Linked DNA regions of Homo sapiens. The protein of the gene in region 3 purifies or fractionates together with the protein of the main gene of each other region. This does not show direct contact. Each region holds a gene or a part of one and is shown on either strand. Other genes may lie near its edges.

The links. The genes of interacting proteins can lie anywhere in the genome.
Region 1: the proteins of PTGES3 (region 3) and EGLN1 purify together in Homo sapiens (affinity purification with mass spectrometry; 5 studies listed by BioGRID and IntAct, with this or other methods). This does not show direct contact.
Region 2: the proteins of PTGES3 (region 3) and PPP5C purify together in Homo sapiens (affinity purification with mass spectrometry; 5 studies listed by BioGRID and IntAct, with this or other methods). This does not show direct contact.

What each region holds. Positions count from the first base shown.
Region 1 is NC_000001.11:231,419,250-231,427,245, forward strand, and holds the start of EGLN1 (egl nine homolog 1), read right to left. Parts: upstream 3,039-7,996; 5' UTR 2,640-3,038; coding exon 1,749-2,639; intron 1-1,748. UniProt on the Homo sapiens protein: Cellular oxygen sensor that catalyzes, under normoxic conditions, the post-translational formation of 4-hydroxyproline in hypoxia-inducible factor (HIF) alpha proteins.
Region 2 is NC_000019.10:46,378,054-46,385,124, reverse strand, and holds part of PPP5C (serine/threonine-protein phosphatase 5), read right to left. Parts: exon of another isoform or gene 2,601-7,071; intron 1,715-2,600; coding exon 1,649-1,714; intron 1,346-1,648; coding exon 1,247-1,345; intron 322-1,246; coding exon 216-321; intron 1-215. UniProt on the Homo sapiens protein: Serine/threonine-protein phosphatase that dephosphorylates a myriad of proteins involved in different signaling pathways including the kinases CSNK1E, ASK1/MAP3K5, PRKDC and RAF1, the nuclear receptors NR3C1, PPARG, ESR1 and ESR2, SMAD proteins and TAU/MAPT.
Region 3 is NC_000012.12:56,685,219-56,692,432, forward strand, and holds the start of PTGES3 (prostaglandin E synthase 3), read right to left. Parts: upstream 3,067-7,214; 5' UTR 2,782-3,066; coding exon 2,780-2,781; exon of another isoform or gene 2,046-2,779; coding exon of another isoform or gene 2,032-2,045; intron 1,700-2,031; exon of another isoform or gene 1,665-1,699; coding exon of another isoform or gene 1,651-1,664; intron 1-1,650. UniProt on the Homo sapiens protein: Cytosolic prostaglandin synthase that catalyzes the oxidoreduction of prostaglandin endoperoxide H2 (PGH2) to prostaglandin E2 (PGE2).

The DNA.
Region 1 (7,996 bases), on a different chromosome or scaffold from region 3:
ATTTCCTAATAGCATCTCTATGAGAAGCATTTGCTCTAAGAGCCAGGCTGTCTGCTGTCCCTTCTCTAAGGACAGGTGAAAGCAGGAAGACAAAAGAGAAAAGAGGTCTCAGCTTAACTTGGAAAGCTAAATTAACTAAGGAAAGCAGATCAAGAAAGATTTGGGACATCATCTTCTTCAAGAATCCAATTTAAGCTTATGTCCCAACTATATACTTTGGTCAGTCTTCACAGCCCTATTGTCTCAAACTAATTTCTTTCCTGCTCTGGAGCTCAGGACTTTATGTTCAGATGTGACAATTTCTTAAAGTTGTGCCCTGACAACTTTCTTAAAAATTTTATCAATGAAAATCTAGTGAAAGACCAACGCTGAAATTTCATCAGATCCCCCTTTTCCTTCCAGTTTAATATTATTCAACTGTTCCTTTTTAAGACTACAAGAAATTAAGACTTGTGCCTTCATCCAGCAATGAAGTGGCAATAGGTAAATTAGACTCCACATTGTATTTTTCCCCACAAAATGTTCACGTTTATAACTTTCTCACTGCCTATGTTCAGTCTTTCGGGCAGCCTGAGAATCACATGTAATGACTGTCAAAGTAGATGATCTGACACACACATACAGAAAAACCACTAGTTAGAGTCAGCGTGTGTGTACAAACATGCAACTGTGATGCTCTCCCAGGTCAATCTCTCAAAACCCACAAAATCAGAGACTGATGGTGGAGGAGGGTGGCCTGGGAGCAGCCACAAAGAAAAGATCAAGATCTGAGAAGTAAAATGAAAAAGAGCTGCAAGAGAGTTGGTTAAGGACGAAAGAGTCTACTGTTTATCATGAGGGAGGAAAGAGGGAATAGACTAGGTAAGAAGTGAAGAAATCTGTGGAGGAAAAACCGCAATAGTAAAGAGAAAACAAAAAGATCTCACCAAATTGGGAGGATAAAACGAGCCCTCCTGCGCCAATTCCGTGTTGTTGTTTTGTTTTGTTTTGTTTTCCAGGAAGTTACAAAACAGTTTTCAACAGAAGGATTACATTAACAAAGCAAATAAAGGAAACTGGTGCTAAAAATGTAGCCTACCTACACTGAGAGGCCTGAAGACGGAAATACTTCTTTCCCCTTTTTGTAACGGGTTTCAAAACAGTAGGAACAGGGTGAGGGATAAGAGCTATAACAGGGGGAGGGGAGTAGCCAAGCTCTTCCTGAATACAGAGTCTTTCGACTAAATGCTTATTTTAAATGTACCTTTTTGCGGTCAGCCGGCAAATTCCTAACTGAACACAGCGTTTGACTCTCAATCGAAATGTGATGAGTGGTTCAGACACCATAGGAAATTTAACAGCTTATGCAAACACAAGGCAGATGCAGAACCAGGACTTGCTTTGGGTGGTACTCTAACACCCCTTCACTGGGTGGCTAAAACGCCACTAAGGTTTGAATTGTGACCAATAGTGGAATGGAAAAAAGAAAATAGGAAAGTTAAAGCGCCTACGTTGAGTCAAAAAACCATGCAATTAGCCGGAGAAGTTTGTGAACGGGCAGTAAGTGGAAAACAGTGGATACAAAGGGGCTAACTAGATAAACAGCTACTACAAATTCTGTCCGTCTTCCTTACGGGGAGCTACACAAGAAAGAGCGAGTCCCTTCTATATAGAGGAATGCTGCTTCTCAGCCTAGGCAGTTTCAGTCGCAGGCAGGGGCTGCCCGCCGAGAAGGGCCTGTCCAGCACAAACCCGCAGCACACACTTACTTTCGTCCGGCCATTGATTTTGTAGCTGCCCAGCTTCCCGTTACAGTGGCGTATCAGGTCGTCCATGCTGCTCATGAGCAGCCCAATGGTTTCGCAGCCGGGCTCCTTGCCCTCGATCCAGGTGATCTTATCGCCTCGGATGTCCTTGGACGAGTCACTCTTCTGGCTGACCAGCTGCCCGTCCGTGAACTTCCCGGTGTCGTGCAGGGCGCGCACCTCGTCGCCGATCTGCTGTCCGGTCTCCTTGCCGAGGAAGTCGTCCACCACACAGATGCCGTGCTTGTTCATGCACGGCACGATGTACTCGAGCGCCAGCTTCAGCGCCGGCAGGGGCTTCGTCTGCCCGTTGGGCCGCAGGCCGCCGCCGGGGCTCAGCGCATCCCCGGGCGTGTTGCTTGGGGGGTACAGGTTCGCCTTCTCCTGGAACAGCGATGAGCGGGCCGGCGGCTCCTCCTTGCCGGGCTCGGCTTCGGCAGCCACCGCCGAGCCCTGGCCGCCGGCGGCCGCACGACACGGCGACGCGGCCGCCGCTGGGTCGGCCGGGGGCTTGGCCTTTACTTTTCCCTTGGCCGCGTCCCCGGAGGCGTTGTCCCGGCGCGCCGCTGCCTTCCTGGGCTCCCGGGCCCCGGCCCTGGGCGGCGGCACTGCAGCCGGCGGCGCGGGGCCGGAATGCTGGTGTGGGCCCACTCCGTGGCCGAGGGCGCCCTCGCTGCCCTGGCACACGAGCTTGTGCTTCTTCCAGTCCTGACGCTGGTGCTCCTTGCAGCAGTAGAAGGAGCTGCGGCAGCGGCTGCAGCGCAGCAGGTTCTCCATCTTCCCGCACAGCTCGCAGTACTGCCGGTCTCGCTCGCTCGGGCTCGGCCCGCCGGGCCCGCCGCTGTCATTGGCCATGGCGGCGGCGGCGGCGGCGACGGCGACTGCGGCGGCCGAGCAGGAGGGGTAGCGGCCGGACGGCCTCGCCCGAGGCTGGGGAGCGGGGAGAGAGATAGGGGCCGTTACTGCGCCATGCACCCGCTACCCTCGCCTCAGGGAGGCCGGCACCCCACGCCCTCGGCCCGGCCGCTTCCGAGTCCTAAGCTCCGGCGCAGCGCCGGCAGCCGCCTCAGCGCCTCATCGCCGCCGAGGGCTGAGAGAATAGGGCCTGTGCGGCGAATGGCAACCTGGGCTCAGGCGCGCGGGCCTGGGGAGCGCAAGACCGGCCCCCTCGGCCGCCGCCGCCGCCTCAGCGTCCCGGGCGGCCCGGCCCAGGCTGTGGAGGAGCGCAGGGCATACGGGCGCCACTCGCTCTGCGCGCTCTGCACGTACACCACGGCCCCGCGGCGACCCGGGCGGGCGGCGCGCGAGGGCGGAGGGGGCGGAGGGAGGGCCGGGAGGGCCGGGGGGAGGGCCGAGGGGCGGGGGCTGCCTGCGCTCCTCCGCACTCGGCGGGGCCGGGCCTCGGCTTCTGCCTCGGAGGTGGGTCGCCCGCTTTCCCTCCGCCCGGGACCGGACTGGGACGCCGAGAGGCCGGTGCGCTACCTCAGCCCGCAGCGGCCTCCTCGGGGACGCCGAGGCGCAGGCCCGCGAGCGGCGGAAAGGCGTGGGGCAGCGCGGCAGCGCCTACACCTGCTGGAGGAGGGCGCCAGCCGCAAGCGGGTAGCGGAGCGAAGGCGGCGTAATCATGGCTGCTCTTCCTCCAGGCCGGCGCGGGGTGTGCGAGGCTCGCTCCAGTCAAGGTTGCAAGGTGGCTATTGCGATCCTCATTTTGCAGAGGAGGAAACGGAAATTCAGAGAAGTAAAGTAACTTGCCCAAGGTCACGCAAAACTGGGACTGAATCCAGGAATCAGGCTCCCAGATTCCAAGGCTGTTTTTTCCATTACACCATACAGCCTCTATTTCAAGAAGCCCTGAAATGGTTAAGAACAAAATAAGTATTACTATGGTGTTAATCCAATCTCTTGCGCCCCGTTTCGACCTAGTTTAAAGGTAATGAAATTTGAGGGTTTTAAAAAAAATCAAAAACTCATTTTTAAAACCTTTGAAATCCCGCCGAGTTCAAAACCCCATGAAGAAATTTTGGGCTACCAAGTTAAATGTAATCAATGCTCATTCCAATATCCAATTTAAACTGATGGGATTATTCCTGAAAAGTGAATTTTGATGGTAAATGAGCAGTACTACATTAACGACTCTCACATTTATTTTTAATAGAATCTGTGCTGCGCGGATGAATACAATTCTTTGTTTTACAGAGCATAAAAACCTTACCAGAAATAAGCCAAAGATGTTTCTTTCTGCTGCTATTTGTCTTAAGAATTAAAAGGTCTGTGATTTCGAGTTTATCAATCTTTATCGAACACTATGTGGAAAGTGGGGTGCTAGGCTTGTGTATCACTTGAGTATACTGTAACTTCAGTCCTTGAAATATAGCCTTCCAAACTTAAAAAGTTGTAATATGTATTTCAAAAGCAGGATATAAGGAATTATTGTAAACCATATTGTAGAAGTTTAAAAAGAGGCTTGAATCCAAAAATATAAAACCTCTTCATCAAATATACAGAATTTAAAACTGTTATAAAATCCTGCTGCATGCGTAAATGGCATTCTGGGGATCCAATCAAGTGAAAGAGGATGATAATTCCAATTAGCTTGTCCTTTGGGAAACTGAGATAAATATACTCACATCTTCAAATTTCAAACCGAACTAAAAATCCAAGTTTCTGTAAAGAATTTAGACCTAGACCTGTCTTATGTGTATCCTACTTTCCCAGAGCTTTATTAAATACAGTAAAATGTCATTGTTGCAGACATTACTAATTAGGCTGTTCAACAAATGCATTGAGAGTCCTTGACAAACAAATGAATTAGTCATACTACACTCAGAGACACATAGTCCAATGCAGGAGGCAGGTATGTAAACAAGGACAATCCAGAGTTCAGAGTTTCCTAAAAGAGGGATGAATAGGATGGAATGGGAACACAGAAAAAGGAATTGCTAGCTCTGCCATTTGCACTAATAAAATCCAAGCAAATTAATTCAGAAATTCTTAAAATATAAAGGAGCTATCTCATGGCTTACGAAAATAAGCATTTAAAACATTTTTCATACACATAAATTATGTAAAATGTAATTTAAATACAAGTAGAGTCTAATACTTCTTAGGCTTCCTTTTGCTATAGTAATTATACATGAGGCTTAATTATTCACAAGAGCAGGAACTTTACTAGGAGGACTCATTCCACAAACACTTGATTCTTCCAACAATTTCTTTTAAATTTGCTATTTCAGTCTGTGGTGTGTCCACAAATTATTTACATCTCTATATGCTCTACTCATATATTTTCATTGAAGTTTACTTAAAAGAATAGATGTCCATATCAAAACCTTTATTAGCTTTCTTGTTCCAATTAAGTATACAAAATCACAAATTGAACATGTATATCCTAAATATACTTAATCCATCAAATAGAACACTTGCAACACTTTAATGAATACAACAGGAAAATATAAAATACTGATTTCAAATAGTTCCAAAGATCCTTGATTTCAGGATTTTCACCTATTCAGGCTTAATAATCTGAACTAATTCCAAATTAGTGAGTTTTCACCACACCATATGCTGGTGAACAATCTTGTCACCAACACGATTCTGGAACTCCAGTAGCATTGTCGCAGCCGCCACTTACTCAGATGTTATAGAGAGACTTCAAAATGTCATGCAAGTATTTATTTATTTATTTACTTATTTAAACTTTAACGGAAGGCAACACAAAGGAATTTATCTTATAAACACATGTGGTGCTTGCTGTTATGTGCCCAATCTGTGTTCTAAGCATTTTAAAAATATTAACCAATTTAATCATCATACAATGCTATGAAGTGGGTACTATTATTCTACCAATTTTACAGAAGGTGAAACAAATAGAGAGTGAGGCAATGAATGTCCCTCCCAATCCTTAATATTGTATGATTAGGAGCACTAGGTGGGTTAACTAATACTCTGGGGCAAACAAAGCCTTGTGTCTCTCAAAGCCATTAATTATTACAAATGTTTTTCTGCCCCTAACCTAATCAAAAGCAACTGTTCTAGAAACTGAAGAATGAATTAAAGTAACAGTGCTTTCCTCTCCATATCATACCAACTTAGACAAAGCTAATTGACCACCTATTTGGCTTCCCTTTGCTCTTCTGGCAGTATTTAGTTAAGCTATAAAGAAGTAGCCACTGTGAACTGACAAGAACTAAAAGAGGCAAAGCTTATGTTAACTACAAGAACAGAATTGAAGGAGGAAATGAATTTAGAAACGACTGTGTTGACTCTTGAGGAAAGCCCACTGAACAACAATCTGCCTTCCAAGGAGTAGCCCTATTTCTCCTTTAAAAATGTTTTTAAAAACACAACAGAGTATCTTTTCTGCTCAAGAAATCGAACATCTGATTGTTAACTAATGACCTCTTGTTTCCCCATCTGTGACAATCTTGTTTTAATAGGTTACAGAGAACAGAAAAATCACAAGTATAGCATAGGCATTCCACCAAGATAAACAGGAAGACAATCTTTGAGTTCTGGGAAAAGCAACTCAAAAATCTGAGCCATTTTCTAACTATAGTATTAGGACACACACAAGTAGGTGTCATTGGAAAACAGCACCTGCTTGTCTCTGTACTGGGGGTTCTGCCAGATGCACACGTGAGCTATGTGCTTCTCCTTGTACATGGAGACAGCTGTACTTTCCACCAAGGTTGTTCCCTTATGAAAACAAAATAATTGAATAGATTTGCTATATATTGGGGCGATTTATCAGTCATCAAACTTTATCAGTTTATGATTGAAAAATTACCACCAATCCTGTTAAAATTGATCATCTCAGAAATATAACAAAAATTTATAATCATCTCTCATTATAGCGAATTTTTTAAATAAATGCTCAAAAACCTGGGATACTAAATAACGTGTCGATCTAATTTTTTTTCCTAACAAACATTACCTTAATGTTGAACCAACTTTTGGGATAGTCACAATCAGTGACTTATACCAACCCAGGTTGGAGAAAGCTAAATAATTTTTCCTGTAACATTTTCTTGTGGGAAAAGTTAAACATATGCAAAAAGAGAGATAATAGTATAATCAACCTCAGCCCTAATGAGTTCAACAGTTATCAGCTTCAACAATTATCAACATTTGTTGATAGACAATTCTTCCCTACCCTCCTCCCTACTATGTCCCCCACTTTTTTTGCTAAAGTATTATAAAGCATATCCCAACTTCAATATGCACATCTGATAAGAACTTTCAAAAATCATATCCACCATGCCATTATCACACAAAATTAAGAAAAATCTCAATACTATCCATCATCCTCCAAGTATTAAATTTTTTTCGATTATATCAAAGATTCTGTTTACAGTTGCTTTATTCAATTCAAGATCTAAACAAGTCCATACATTGCACTTAGTTGTTTCTTCCTCCACCCCGCCCCACCTAATACCATCACAAATTGTCATATTTCTTAAGTCCCTTTTACTCAATTTTACCAGCATCTCACCCTTCATACTATAGATTTACTGTAGAAACTAGGCCATTTGTACTACGGAATGTCCCATATTCTAGATTTAGCTGATTACTTCCTTGTGATATTACTCCTATTTCTGCAAATAGGTAGATTTAGGATTTTTATTAGATTGAGGTTCTATATTTTAGGTAAGCATACTTTGTGGTAGTTGCCGTGTATTTCCTATTACATCACATCATGAGGCACATATGTCTGATACTTGCATTTTAATGACGAAATATTGCTCATGGGTTGAGGTGGTGTCAGCCTGATTCCTACATTACGTTTTTCATCAAACATCACCTGATTATTTTAGCATCCATTAATTGTGACTCAATCCAGTATTTCATTAGACGTTGCAAAATAATGAATTTCTAATTCTAACATTCCTCCTAAATTTATTAGCTGGAATTCTACCATAACATTTTTCATTAACTCTTTGGTTATCCTGAAATATAGTTTGTAGATGAAAGATAGGGTCCACGTTTCTTTTCATTTATCAATTTTCAAAATAATGAGTTAGTGCTCTAGCAACTTCTAATGAGCTTTTTTAAAAAAATGATCATGAATATATGTATTTTCATATATTTGAAGTGCATTAATTATTCTTTTTGATGCTCAAATCGTCCCACTTTTGGCCAGTGAGAAATTATTTGAGTTGGTTCCTATGTATTGTAGATGTGGTCACATTAATCTTTGATAGTTTTCTTGCTTT
Region 2 (7,071 bases), on a different chromosome or scaffold from region 3:
AGAGTAAACATCCATTTCTACACTATCTATGATGTAAACGCGTCCTTTGGTGTGATGCTTTTGTGCAGTGCACTACATACTCAATCTTAAAAGGTCGCCCTGTGCATGATCTCCGAGTCCACAAAATAAATACAGCTGCAACTATTATCCTTGCAGAGTGAGTGCCCCACTCAGGACCCCACAATGAACCCAAACCTTGTCACTTCCCAGCTCACCTCGAAGGAGGTGAAAGTGATCTGGGTACAGGAGCTTGAAGCCGAAAAGGGTGAGGATCACTTCTACAGAGAAGGAGCCTCGGTCCACAAAGTCACCATTAAATATCTGTCCTGCTGAGGAAAACATGGCAAGCGTGGAGGGGAAGGGTGCGGTGCGGTGGGGTTGGGGGTGGTGGCAGAAGATGGGCCAGATGGGCTGCTCCTGCCTGGCCTCAAGCCTCCTGTCAGCACCTCCCAGGGAGTGAGGACTTGGCAGGGCTCAAGGGATCTGGGTTTCTAATCCTTTCCTCACCGTGGCTCCAGCCAGAGCTTGGCCGCTGAGCCTCAGTAGTATGGCACTGAGGACCCTGCCTCCTGTCTCCCGGAAAGCCAGTGGCGGGGAGGTGCGGGGACTAGTCAGTCCACCTCCTTCAGCTCTCCTCAGAGAGGCCTGGAGCCATGGGGGAGATGGGACACGGGCCCTCCCACTCAACAATGCATAGGCCTAGTGGCCCTACAAGTGGCCGTTCATCGAGCAGATACCATAACACGGGGAAATACTTAGATAGCATCAGGTGTGGGCCAGGCCCTGTTCTTAACCTGTCCTCTCAGTAACTGCTGAGTAACAAGGTTGCACATATTATTATCCCTCTTTGCAAATGGGGAAACTGTGACACCAAGCAGTGAAGTAACCTGCTTCGGTCACACAGCTGGGAAGTGGCAAAGCCAGGATGGAACCCAAGTGTGGCCAGTGCCAGGTGCCATTCAAATGTGATCCTGAGGCAGACGAAGACAAGCCAAGACCCAGAGAGACTGAGCTACCAGCTTAGGTCACACAGCAGGTGGGTGCTGGCCCAGGCCTGTCCGAGCCTGGAGCCTGGGGTGCATGGCCAGCCTGCAGCTCCACCCACACCTTGGTGCCCCAGCATGGCCAGGCCTCTCCTTTCCAAGGTCACGTCTTTTCCTGGCAAGGGCTCCTCCCACTCTGTGCAGACCTGAGGCTGCGGCTGGGGGTGGAGGTGGGGAGAGGGTGGCTCTGCTGAGAAGGATACATAGGGGTTGGTCTCCGAGGGTAAACCGTTGAGCTCGAATATGTTGAGGAGGTCATAGAACTGGCCATGGGTGTCCCCACATACTGTAATCTTCTCTGTCTGAAAGAAAAGAGGCCACCGGAGAGGGACGGGCCGAGAGAGAGACGTGGGGAGGGGGCAGAGGTGAGGGGAAGGGTAAGAGTTCACAGTAGACCAAGAAGAATCATGCAAGAGACACAAGCAGGGAACACAAACGAAGACCAAGAGGCCAGGAGAGAAATGGGATATTCAGGAGGAAAGGCACAGGGGTGGGGTGTGAGGGAGAGAGGGAGGTGGATCCGTGAGTTCCTGAGCTCTGTGGCCCCTCCCCAGCCAGAGAGCCCACCCCCGCTGGCCCTCCCCGCACTGCCCCACAACGCGCACCTCTTTGAGTGTGGTTTCCACGAGCGTGCTCAGCTTGGAGAGGACCTCTTTGACCTGTACCAGAATCTGGAAGGCAGGGCAGACTCAGTGGGACCGGCTGCAGGGGCTGCTGCCCAACCTGGCCCCGAAAGCCTGGACTGCCCATGAGACGCTGCTGGGCTGAGGGCGAGGGAGAAGCAGGGAGAGAAGAAAAAGGGCAGGGCAGGCCTGGGGGAGCGGGAGCAGGCGGGGCCGGAGGCAGCCGCAGGCTTCTGTGGCCTGTGCAGTGCCGAAGCATTGCGATTGTTTTGTACGAAAACCTGATTCTTGAATTATCTTAAAATACTCAGCATCAAGTGGAAATACATGCATGAATCCAGATCGTAGAACATTTTATAAAAGAACTGGCCTGGACACAGCGCAATGTCACTGTCATAAAAGAGTCTCCCAAAAAAGAAGTGAGACTTTCTAGGTAAAAAGAGGTAAAAAGGCAGGTCATAGGCAACACTGGTGCTTTCAACGGACGCTGAATTTTTTAAAAGCAGCTAAAAAGGATGTTTTGGGGAGAGCTGGGGAGAATTAAAATACTAATAGATGTCTAGAAATGCAGATGATTTATTTTTCACAGATTGGATATGACCTTGACAATGACATGCATATTTGTCAATGTTTCCAGATTTTCCGGATGGCCTGTGGACTGTCTACCTTAGTCAGTATTATCACATCAATGATGAATTTCTAAGGTAGGACAATTCAACTGTGGTCACACAAGAGGACGTCTTTGTTTTTGGGAGATCCAGGTTATGATGGCTGCAACTTACTTTCAAATGGGTTAGGGGAAAAAAAAGAAAAAAGTATACACATACAAATGCATAAATAAGTAGACAGACACATAAAGTTAATGCATTAAAATGTTCACAAGTGGTGAATCTGTGTGAAGGGTGGACAGATGTTAACTGTACTGTTCTTTCAGCTCTCTGTAGGTCTGACGATTTCCAAAATAAGCTGGGGAAAAAGGTGTTAAGAAAATGCAGGCGGCATCCACTTCTAGTCAGAAGGTAGAAAAGTTACAAAAGACTGTCTCGCCCTAAAGATGAAAACAAGCCAAACAAGCAACAAAATCAAAGGTAAAGCCATCTGAGAGCTGGCAATGCAAAGGGACCTAAATTAATCAAAATGCAGACAGGACGAGCCCTTCCTTGGGGAAGGAGCCCACAGCTTTCACCCTGGTGCGAGGCAGCAGGGCGGGATGCCCTGCGTGAGGGGAAATGAGTGGAAGTTCATGACCGTGTGGGGACTGGCGTGACAGATGAGGACTCCAGGGAGCCCCAGCACAGCCCGCCTCTGCCCCCTGCCAACTCCCTCACACGGGCTTCATGGAAGGTTGGGCGCGAGGGAGTGAGGTGCAGAGAAACCTCCTGAGGTACAGAAGTGGGGGCGAGACTGGAGAGCGGAGAGCACCCCAGTGGCCCCACAGTCTGGCGGCAGGGCTGAATACCAGAGGCCTCCCACAGTTCCAAAAGCTGGCGACTTTAAAACATAAAGACATCCCTGGAATTCTGCCAGGGCTAAGATCCCAAGCTCTGCTGAAGGGAAAGTCCTAATTCTACTCTGAACACATTTAAAGCCGGTGGTAAAGAAACTCCAATAAAAGCTGCCCCTAAACTACAGATGAGGTTCACACAGCCCCTCCCTCTTGTGGCTCAACAGGAGAAATGTGTGCCATTTTCTTATTTGTTTATTTGTTTTAAGACAGGGTCTCACTCTGTCACCCAGGCTGGAGTGCAGTGGCTCGAACACAGTTCACTGCAGCCTCAACCTCCCAGGTTCAGGTGATCCTCCCCACTCAGCCTCCCAAGTAGCTAGGACTACAGGTGCCAACCACCATGCCTGGCTAATTTTTGTATTTTTTTTGTAGAGGTGGGGTTTCTACAAGTTGCCCAGGCTGGTCTTGAACTACTGGGCTCAAGCGATCTGCCCACCTTGGCCTCCCAAAGTGCTAGGATTACAGGCCTGAGCCATGGTGCCCAGCCTAAGTGTGCCATTTTCTGAGGAAAAACTTTATTTACCTCAGTCTCTAATGTTCTTTTATACAAAATAGCTGGCATACAATAAAATTGTAAAACACATGAAGAACTGGTAACAGAGCAGACTCAGAGATGAACCAGATGATGGAACTATCAGACAGAGACGTTAAGATAACCATGGTAAATGTGTGAAAGGACTTGGTGGAAAAGGTGGACAACATGCATGAACACATGAGACACAGAGATGAAAAGTCTATTAAAAAAAACACAACTAAATGAAAATGCTACCAATAAAAAATACAATGTAAGAAATAAATAATTCATTTGTTGGGCTTGACAGCAGTTACAAAGAATCAGTGAACATAAGGACAACTGAAATTATCTGAACTGAAATACATAGAGGAAAAATCGTGAAAAGAATTAAAAAAATTCAGGTCATTAAGATCTAAGGAATAGTATCAAATAGTATCAAAGAGCATGTTATTAGCTTTCCAGACGGAGAGGAGAGCAGAAATGGGAAGAAATATAAGAAATAATGGCTAAGAACTTTCCAAAACTAATGAAAGATATTAACCCACAGACTCAAAAAAAGCACATCAAAGCCCATCATAGTCAAACTACTAAAACCCAAAGGCAACATCTTAAAACCAGTGAAGAAAAAAGCAGACTATATAGAACAAAGATATGAATGATTGCTGAGTTCTCACAGAAACAATGGAGGTCAAAAGGCAATGGGAAAAAAACACATTTAAAGCCTTGAAAGAAACAATGTCAACCTAGAACTCTACATCCAGCAAAGACACCCCTAAAAATGAAGACAAAATAAAAACATTTTCAGGCAGACCAAAGCTGAGAGAATTAGTCTACAGCAGACGTGCACTGTAAGAAATGCTAAAAGTACTCAGGCAGAAGGGGCATGATACCAGATAGAAACTCACATATGGAAGAAGAAACAAGGAGTAAGAGAAAGGGTAAATATAAAAGACATTTTCTGTGTATTCATACGTGTATTTCTTTAGAAGACTAGTGTCTATTTAAGGAAATGACAACAATGTATTTATAGCAGATGCATAAGCATGACAAGAGCACAAAGGCTGGGAGAAAATAAAAGCAATCACAATATTGTAAGATTCTTTTTTTTTTTTTCTTTTGAGATGGAGTCTCGCTCTGTTGCCCAGGCTGGAGTGCAGTGGCACGACCTTGGCTCACTGCAACCTCCACCTCCTGGGTTCAAGTGATTCTTCTGCCTCAGCCTCTCGAGCAGCTGGGATTAGAAGTGTGTGCCACCATGCCTGGCTAATTTTTGTATTTTTAGTAGAGACAGGGTTGTAGAGATGGGGTTTTTGCCATGTTGACCAGGCTAGTCTGGAACTCCTGACCCCAAGTGATTCACCTGCCTCGGCCTCCGAAACTGCTGGGATTACAGGCATGAGCCACTGCCCCAGGCCATAAGATTCTTATATTGTCCATTAAGTATCATATTATTATTTGAAAGTAGAATAGGACAAGTTAAAGTTACACATTGTAATCTTTGGAGCAGCCTTTTTCATCCAGGGTTCCGGGAAATGATTAAGCCCCACAAAAAATATTTTCAGTGATATCTGCTCAGTTCTCCCAAGGAGAGCACACAGATTCACAGGAGAGGAGTTAATTCACTGCGGATATAATGGATGCCTAAGGGAGTTAGGGCTTAATTCTCTCTATAGAGCCTCAGCTGAGAAGGGCTGCTCTAGAGCAACCATGTAACACTCCACCCCTCGCCACACACATTCAAAAGTATAACAAAAAATTCAATAAAACAGATGAAATGCTAAAAGATTCCTGATTCACACAAAAGAAAGTCAAAGAAGGAGAAACAAGGGGGAAAAAAACAAATGGGACATATAGAAAAGAGACATCTAGACAGTAGATTGAAATGCAATCATATGATTGCTGATAGTTAAACATAAATGAACTAAACACTCCAATTAAAAGGTAAAGATTGGCTGGGAATGGTGGCTGACACCTGTAATTCCAGCACTTTAGGAGGCCGAGGTGGGTGGATTATCTGAGGTCAGGAGTTTGAGACCAACTTGACCAACATGGTGAAACACTGTCTCTATTAAAAATACAAAAATCAGGCCAGGCATGGTGGCTCATGCCTGTAATTCCAGCACTTTGGGAGGCTGAGGCAGGTGGATCACGAGGTCAAGAGATCGAGGCCATCCTGGCCAACATGGTACAATCCCATCTCTACTAAAAATACAGAAGTTAGCTGGGCATGGTGGTGCACACCTGTAGTCCCAGCTACTCGGGAGGCTGAGGCAGGAGAATCACTTGAATCTGGGACACAGAGGTTGCAGTGAGCTGAGATTGCGCCACTGCACTCTACCCTGGTGACAGAATGAGACTCCGTCTCAAAAAACAAAACGAAACAAAAATTAGTTGGGTATAGTGGCGTGTGCCTGTAATCCTAGCTACTCTGGAGGCTGAGGCAGGAGAATTGCTTGAATCCAGGAGGCAGAAGTTGCAGTGAGCCAAGATCACACCATTGCACTCCAACCTGGGCAACAAGAGCGAAATTCCACCTCAAAAAAAAAAAGGTAAAGATTGTCCAACTGGATAAAAAGGCAAGACCCAAGTATATGCTGTTTATAAGAAAAACATTTTAAATATAAAGATACCAATGGGTTAAATACAAAAGGGTAGAAAAGTTATAGCATGCAAATATTAACTGTAAAAATCTGGTTTAACTATTTTAATAGAAAACAGGGATTTCAAGCCAAAAAGTACTGAAGTCACTTCATTATAATGAGTCAATTCATCAAGAAAGCATAACAATCCTAAATGTGTGCCTAATAAAAATTTCAAAATACAGGAAGCAAAAAACTGAGAATTATAGGGAGAAATAGGCAAATCTACAAGTATAGTCGGAGCTTTTAACAGCCCCCTCAATAAATGATTGAGCAATTAGAAAAAATAGGCTATAAAAGATTTTTAACAGCAGTCTCAACCATCTTGAACTAATTGACATTTATAGAGCCCTATGACTAACGACTGCAAAATACACACTATTTTCCAGTACATACTGCATGTTTGCCAAGACAGATCTAAAAATAGCCCCAATGGAATCATCCAGAGTGTGTTGTCTGACCAAATTAGAAATCAGTAACAGTAACATCTAGAAGTCCCCAAATATTTGGGAGTTAAACAATACCCTTCTCAATAATCTATGGATAAAATCAGAAACCATAAAGAAAATTAGAAAACAATTCTAACTCAATGATAATGAAAATACGACGTATTAAAATTCACGGGACGCAGCTAACTTACTGCCTGGAAGGAAATTTAGTTTTAAATGCTTTGTGTGGAAGAAAAGATGTAAAATTAACAGCATTAATGTCCATCTTCAGAAGCCAGAAGAAAGCAAATTAAACC
Region 3 (7,214 bases):
ACTTTCATTTTAAAATTTAAGTCTTTAGCTTGTTAAGAGTCCCTGAAGAATTTACTAAACGGCATATATTATTTTTAAAAGAATATTTTAGCTGGTCTCTTCAAAACACTTGTTTCCCCCAGCCCAACACTCTTCAAGTGGCATTGAATCACTCGTTTTGAAGGTAGCATTTTTTCTTTTCTTTTTTTTTTTTTTTTTTTTTAAGACAGTCTCGCTGTGTCGCCCAGGCTGGAGTACAGTGGCGCAATCGCCGCTCACTGCAAGCTCCGCCTTCCGGGTTCAAGCCATTCTCTTGCCTTAGCCTCCCAAGTAGCTGGGACCACAGGCGCCCGCCACCACACCCGGCTAATTTTTTGTATTTTTAGTAGAGACGGGGTTTCACCGTGTTAGCCAGGATGGTCTCGATCTCCTGACCTCGTGATCCACCCGCCTCGGCCTCCCAAAGTGCTGGGATTACAGGAGTGAGCCACCCCGCCCGGCATGAAAGTAGCATTTTTATTTTTTAACTAGAGAGGCTACTTTTTGGAATAGTCTCTCTACTGCTACACTTACTTTTTTTTTTTTTTTTTTTTTTTTGAGACGGAGTCTCCCTCTATTGCCCAGGCTGGAGTACAACGGCGCAATCTCTGCTCACTGAAACCTTCACCTCCTGGGTTCAAGCGATTCTCCTGCCTCAGCCTCCGGAGTAGCTGGGACTACAGGCATGCACCACCACACCCAGCTAGTTTTTGTATTTTTAGTAGAAACGGGGTTTCACCATATTGGCCAGGCTGGTCTCTAACTCCTGACCTCGTGTTCCGCCTGCCTCGGCCTCCCAAGTATAGGGATTACAGGCGTGAGCCACCGCGCCTGGCCTTACACTTACTTTTCACCCAAGTTTTTAAATCTACTTTCCTAGTAATAGCCGTTCCTTACCTATTTAAATATCTCATGTGGCCTCCATCAAATGCTTCTACTTCAAGCCAATTTTAAACATACTTTTCGCGAAAAGATATGTTGTTTGGCTCTATTATTAAAAGCTGCTTAATGCCTCATCTGACAAAAAATTTCCCCTTACAGATTTTCAGAGTATGAAAGGTTAAGACTGATGTCCCTTCTACATTACTTAGGAGAGCTTTCAAATAGAAAAGCAAAAACTATTTTATATACATTCAAATTTATTTATTTATTTTGAGACGGGTTTTCACTCTTGTTGCCCAGGCTGGAGTGCAATGGCATGATCTCGGCTCACCGCAACCTCCACCTCCCAGATTCAAGCGATTCTCCTAACCTCAGCCTCCCGAGTAGCTGGGATTACAGGCATGTGCCACCACGCCCGGCTAATTTTTTTTGTATTTTTGCAGCGACGCGGTTTCTCCATGTTGGTCAGTCTGGTCTCGAACTCCCGACCTCAGGTGATCCGCCCGCCTCGGCCTCTCAGAGTGCTGGGATCACAGTTGTGAGCCACCGCGCCCAGCCTAATTCAAATTTTTTAAAACCCCGATTACGTATCACTTTCGGGGAGGGGGCTCCTTCAAAAATTCTAACATGCTGTGCTCTAGAAGCTTGTTCCCAGTGATAAACTCGCTTCAGCCTCACGCATCCCTTTAGATTTCTAGCCAATATACTCAGCCTCAGTATCATGACTTGAATCAAGCAAATCCTTATTACTTTTCCAAAGACATAAAGTCACTCCCCTCTTCTCTCTTCTGAATGGAGTCTAAAACAAAAGAAAAAAAAGGTTCCACCTTAATTGTTCTCCATACCTTTTAGGACGTAGTTAGTACCTTGAAAAATAACCTCCCGTCAAAAAAAAAAAAAAAAAAAAAAAAACCCTGTAAAACCGGCAGTTCCCACTGTACGCGGCAGTGCCAAGAATTCTTACCGGTTAAAATCGCCAAGGCTTTCCTTTATCATCGTAAAATGAAGACTGCCATAGAATCTGTATTCACCTCCACACAAATTTAAGATCTTTGGGACGACTGTAGGTTAATTAAATGCCTACTACATACCTATTTCATCCTACACTGTAACAAGATAGTGAAACCTCACCTCAAGTAGAACATGAAACACAGAAAATGTCCGTATCTTTCCAAAGTCGACACGTGCGGAACTACCTGCTCAATGGTAACTCCTCCTCGCTGCCAGGGAAGCGGCTGAGTTTTGGCAACCTCCCGTGTTTTCAAGAGACTGGAGTTAGGAGGCGGACTGGAAGTACCCACACTCAAGAAACCCAGACACTGGAGAGGGAAGTATGTTGCGGCGTGGGCATGGCTTCCTTCTAGTTGCCTAGCAGTACCTGCAGCTCACGGCGAGGTCCGCGTGGGGCTCTCCCAGGAGCTCCGCCAGGCACCTGGCGGCACCCACCACAGGTGCACTCGACTCAGGGCCTGGCCCCGGGACCACAAAGCAACAGAACCGGAGCGCCCAAGCAGCCGAGAGGCGACCCACGAAGGTTCACGCTTCAGGGCGCCGCATGGCGAGCAGCTACCGGGAGCTTAAGGCCTAGGGTGAAGTTACCGAAAGAGGCGAGTAACCCAGACAGCCAAAGGGGTAAAAGTAGGATTTCCGGCATGGGGAAGCCAAGGAACGGTTCAGGGGTGGGGGAAGCAGACATCTGGAGGAAAAATGTCCTCCACCCGCCAACGGTAACCGGAACAAGGATCCTGGACCTCCCGCCCCCAGGCAGGAACGACTGCCACCACCGATGCGAGAAAGGCTAGGGGGCCGCTTCCAGGGAGCCCCCAACGCGGCCTCGGCCTCACTCGGCGACCTTCCCTCGGCGGGGTGTCGCACTCACATTGTGAACGGGGCAGGGGGACGGGCGAACTGGTGGGCGGGCCTCTCTGGCGGCGGCTGCTGCTAGGGAGTCGACTTCTCTCCGGTGGCGACTCCGCTTTTTCTCTCCGGTCGCGGCCTCTTCTCGCTTCCCTCAGGCGACGGCGGCAGCGGCGGGCTCGACCTCGGGCCCCAGAATGCACCGCGCGGAAAGAGCGGCTCCTCCGGTCGGGGAGAAGAGGAAAGTGTAGGAAAAGGGGCGCGAGGACGGAGAATGAACGTGCGTGCGTGCAAACGAGGGGTGGTGAGGCCGGGCGGCGGCTGGTGACGCAGCAAAATGCCCGGGCCTTGCCGCCGCGCGTGCGCAGTCCTTGTTTTTGGGCTCCGGCGCGGCTTTCTAGAGATATCTACGGAAAGGGCGGGGCCTCCCAGCTCCTTCGCGATCCTTCCTGGCGCCGGCCCCGCCCTTCGTCCGCCACCCCACCCCCACTCCGCCCCCTGCTAGTCCCTACGCGTTCCCGCCTCTCCTCCCGCTCTGTCTTCTCGCGTTAGAAAACCGTTAGTGGCCCAACTGCCCTGCCATGCGCCTTCGGCGATTTCTCTGAGAAACGGTTGCGTTGACAGTGGGAGGCAAGGCTGAGGCGGAGGGACACGGAGTCGGGATCCTGGAGAACTGAAATGGCGCGTTGGTTACTCTTGAGGGAGTAAATCAGCTCACTGAGTCATCATTCCACCACAAAAACCTGTAAAAAGCCTGTGCTGTGGAAAAGGGCTCACTTCAGAATCAAGGGCCTGGGTCCACCTCGCCATTTTTCTGAAGGTTGGAGGCTCTGTCCAGGGACAGCGGAAATTCGAGGTTCTTGGCGGAGGAGGAGCATTTGCCAATTGGGGCGGGCTTTTGCCCCTACCTTGAGACCTTAGTGCTGTAGATGAGCCAGGAAAGGTATTTGAGGGGAGAGTCTAGGTTTCTGGGAATGGAGAGAGTAGGACATTGTGTGTTTCCACGCACATCGTTTGGGGGAGAAGGGGTTCCCCGTCGCTTTGTGCAACATATTAGTAGGGTGTAGTAGGGGTAGCAACCAAGAGACCCAAAACAGTCCTGCTTAAGAAGAAGCCGCTTAACGGTGGATTGGGGAAAAATACTCTAGTGCGCTGCATTTTGAACAGGAAGGAGGTTTAACGAAAGTGCTATAAAACCTTTCTGAAGAACGGGGCTTCATAATAAGCACTAAGGTATTTAGTGTCTGTGTTGTGCAGGACAGGTAGTGGGAGCTACGAAACCTGGACCCTAGCTCAAATGCCATTAAAAAGGGAAATTGGGCGGGGCGCCCGTGGCTCACGCCTATAATCCCAGTACTTTGGGAAGTTCGGTGGGCGGATCACCTGAGGTCAGGAGTTCAGGACCAGCCCACCCAACATGGTGAAACCCCATCTCTACTAAAAATACTAATTAGCAGGGCGTGGTGGCACTTGCCTGTAATGCCAAATACTAGCTAGTATGAGGCGGGAGGATAGCTCGAACCCCGAACCCGGGAGGCGGAGGTTGCAGTGAGCACTCCAACTTGGGCGACAGAGTGAGACCCTGTGTCAAAAAAAAAAAAAAAAAGGGAAGGGGCCGGGCGCGGTGGCTCACGCCTGTAATCCCAGCACTTCGGGAGGCAGAGGCGGGCAGATCACGAGGTCAGGAGATTGAGCCCATCCTGGCTAACATGGTGAAACCCCGTCTCTACTAAAAATAAAAAAAAATCAGCCGGGTGTGGTGGCACACGCCTCTAGTCCCAGCTACTCGGGAGAGCGAGACAGGAGAATCGCTTGAACCCGGGAGGCGGAGGTTGCAGTGAGCCGAGATCGCGCCACTGCACTTCAGCCTGGGCGACAGAGTGAGTCTGGGTCTCAAAAAAAAAAAAAAAAAAAAAAGGAAGTTAACTTGGCGCACTGGTTCACGCCTGTAATCCCAACACTTTGGGAGGCCGAGGCCAGTGGATTACTGGAGATCAGGAGTTCAAGACCAGCTTGGCTAACATGGTGAAACCCCCGTCCCTACTAAAAATACAAAATATTTGGCCAGGAGCAGTAGCTGACGCCTGTAATCCCAATACTTTGGGAGGCCGAGGCGGGCGGATCACGAGGTCAGGAGTTCAAGACCAGACTGGCCAACATGGCAAAACCCCATCTCTACTAAAAATACAAAAATTAGCTGGGCGTGGTGTGCCTATAATCCCAGGTACTCAGGAGTCTTAGGTGGGAGAATCTCTTGAACCCGGAAGACGCAGGTTGCAGCGAGTCTAGATTGTACCACTGTACTCCAGCTTGGTGACAGTGAGACTCTGTGTAAAAAAAAAAAAAAAAAAAAAAAAAAGAAAAGAAAAAATAGGTCACAACCAAATAATGGTGGCACTGAATGTCAGGCTAAATTTTTTTTTTTTTTTATGTTTTTGAGACAGGGTCTCACTTTAACTCAGGCTGGAGTGCAGTAGTGGTATCACAGGTCACTGCAGTCTTGACTTCTGGGTCCAATTGATCCTCCTGTAACGACTGAATTTAAATATATGTCCAGAGTCACAAATTGCAAAAGAGAACTTTATAGACTGATTTGAGCAATTAAAAAAATTGTTAATTGAAGGTGAGAACAATCCTATTTTATAAGGGGGCTTTCTAATAAGATAACAACTTAGAAGTTGTTAATTTTGTATTAGGAAGTCAAAGGGAAAGGGTGCAAAATGGTAAAAATGTCTCCTGGAGGCCGGGCGCGGTGGCTCACGCCTGTAATCCCAGCATTTTGGGAGGCCGAGGCGGGCGAATCACCTGAGGTTGGGAGTTCGAGACCAGCCTGACCAACATGGAGAAACCCCATCTCTACTAAAAAACACAAAATTAGCCGGGCGTGGTGGCGCATGCCTGGAATCCCAGCTACCAGGGAGGCTGAGGCAGGAGAATTGCTTGAACCCAGGAGGTGGAGGTTGCAGTGAGCCGAGATCATGCCATTGCACTACAGCCTGGGCGACAAGAGCAAAACTCTGTCTCAAAAAAAGAAAAGTCTCCTGGGTATAGGGAATAAAAATTGGGCCGGGCGCGGTGTCTCATGCCTGTAATCCCAGCACTTTGGGAGGCCAAGGCAGGTGGATCACCTGAGGTCAGGAGCTCAAGACCAGCCTGGCCAACATGGCAAAACCCCATCTCTACTAAAAATACAAAAATTAGCTGGGCGTGGTGGCAGGCGCCTGTAATCCCAGCTACTTGGGAGGCGGAGGCAGAATTGCTTGAACCTGGGCGGCAGAGGTTGCAGTGAGCCGAGATCATGCCATTGCACTCCAGCCTGGGTGACAAGAGCGAAACTCCATCTCAAAAAAAAAAAAAAAAAAAAAAAAAGACGGGGCACGCGTGGCTCACGCCTGTAATCCCAGCACTTTGGGAGGCTGAGATGGGTGGATCATGAGGTCAGGAGTTCAAGACCAGCCTGGCCAAGACGGTGAAACCCTGTCTCTACTAAAAATACAAAAATTAGCCAGGCTTGGTGGTGGGTGCTTGTAATCCCAGCTACTTGGGAGGCTGTGGCAGAACCTGTGAGGTGGAGGTGGCAGTGAGCCGAGATCTCCCCACTGCACTCCAGCCTGGGTGACGAGACTCTGTCTCAAAAAAAAAAAAAAATTGGCCATAAACCTTAAAAGAGATATTATGACCCAGCTTAATATAAACATTACTAGTAGCCACCTGTAGTCCCAGCTACTTGAGAGGCTGAGGTGGGAGGATTGCTTAAGCCCAAGAGTTCAAGTCCAGCCTGGGCAACGTAGGGAGACCCTGTCTTTGAAAAAATAAATTTTTTTTTTTTTTAGATGGAGTCTCTGTCGCCCAGGCTGGAATGCAGTGGCACGATCTCTTTTTAGTAGAGACGGGGTTTCACCATGTTCACCAGGCTGGTCTTGAACTCCTGACCTCAGGTGATCTGCCTGCCTCGGCCTCCCAAAGTGCTGGGATTACAGACGTGAGCCACTGCGCCCAGCAAATAAAATCATTTTTAAAATTACTTATGTTTTAGGCCAAGCATGGTGGCTCATGCCTGTAATGCCAACATTTTGGGAGGCCAAGGTGGGAGGATGTCTTGAGGCCAGGAGTTCAAAACCTGCCTGGGTGGCCATGAGCAGTGATTCACACCTGTAATCCCAGCACTTTGGGAGGCTGAGGCAGGTAGATCATCTGAGGTCAGGAGTCAAGACCAGCCTGGCCAACATGGTGAAACCTCATATTTACTAAAAATACAAAAATTAGCTGGGTGTGGTGGTACATGCCTGCAGTCCCAGCTATTTGGGAGGCTGAGGCAGGAGAATGGCTTGCACCCAGGAGGCAGAGGTTGCAGTGAGCCAAGAATGCACCACTGCACTTGCCACTGTACTCCAGCCGAAATGACAGAGCGAGACTCTGTCTCAAAACAGAAACAGGCCAGGTGTGGTGGCTCATGC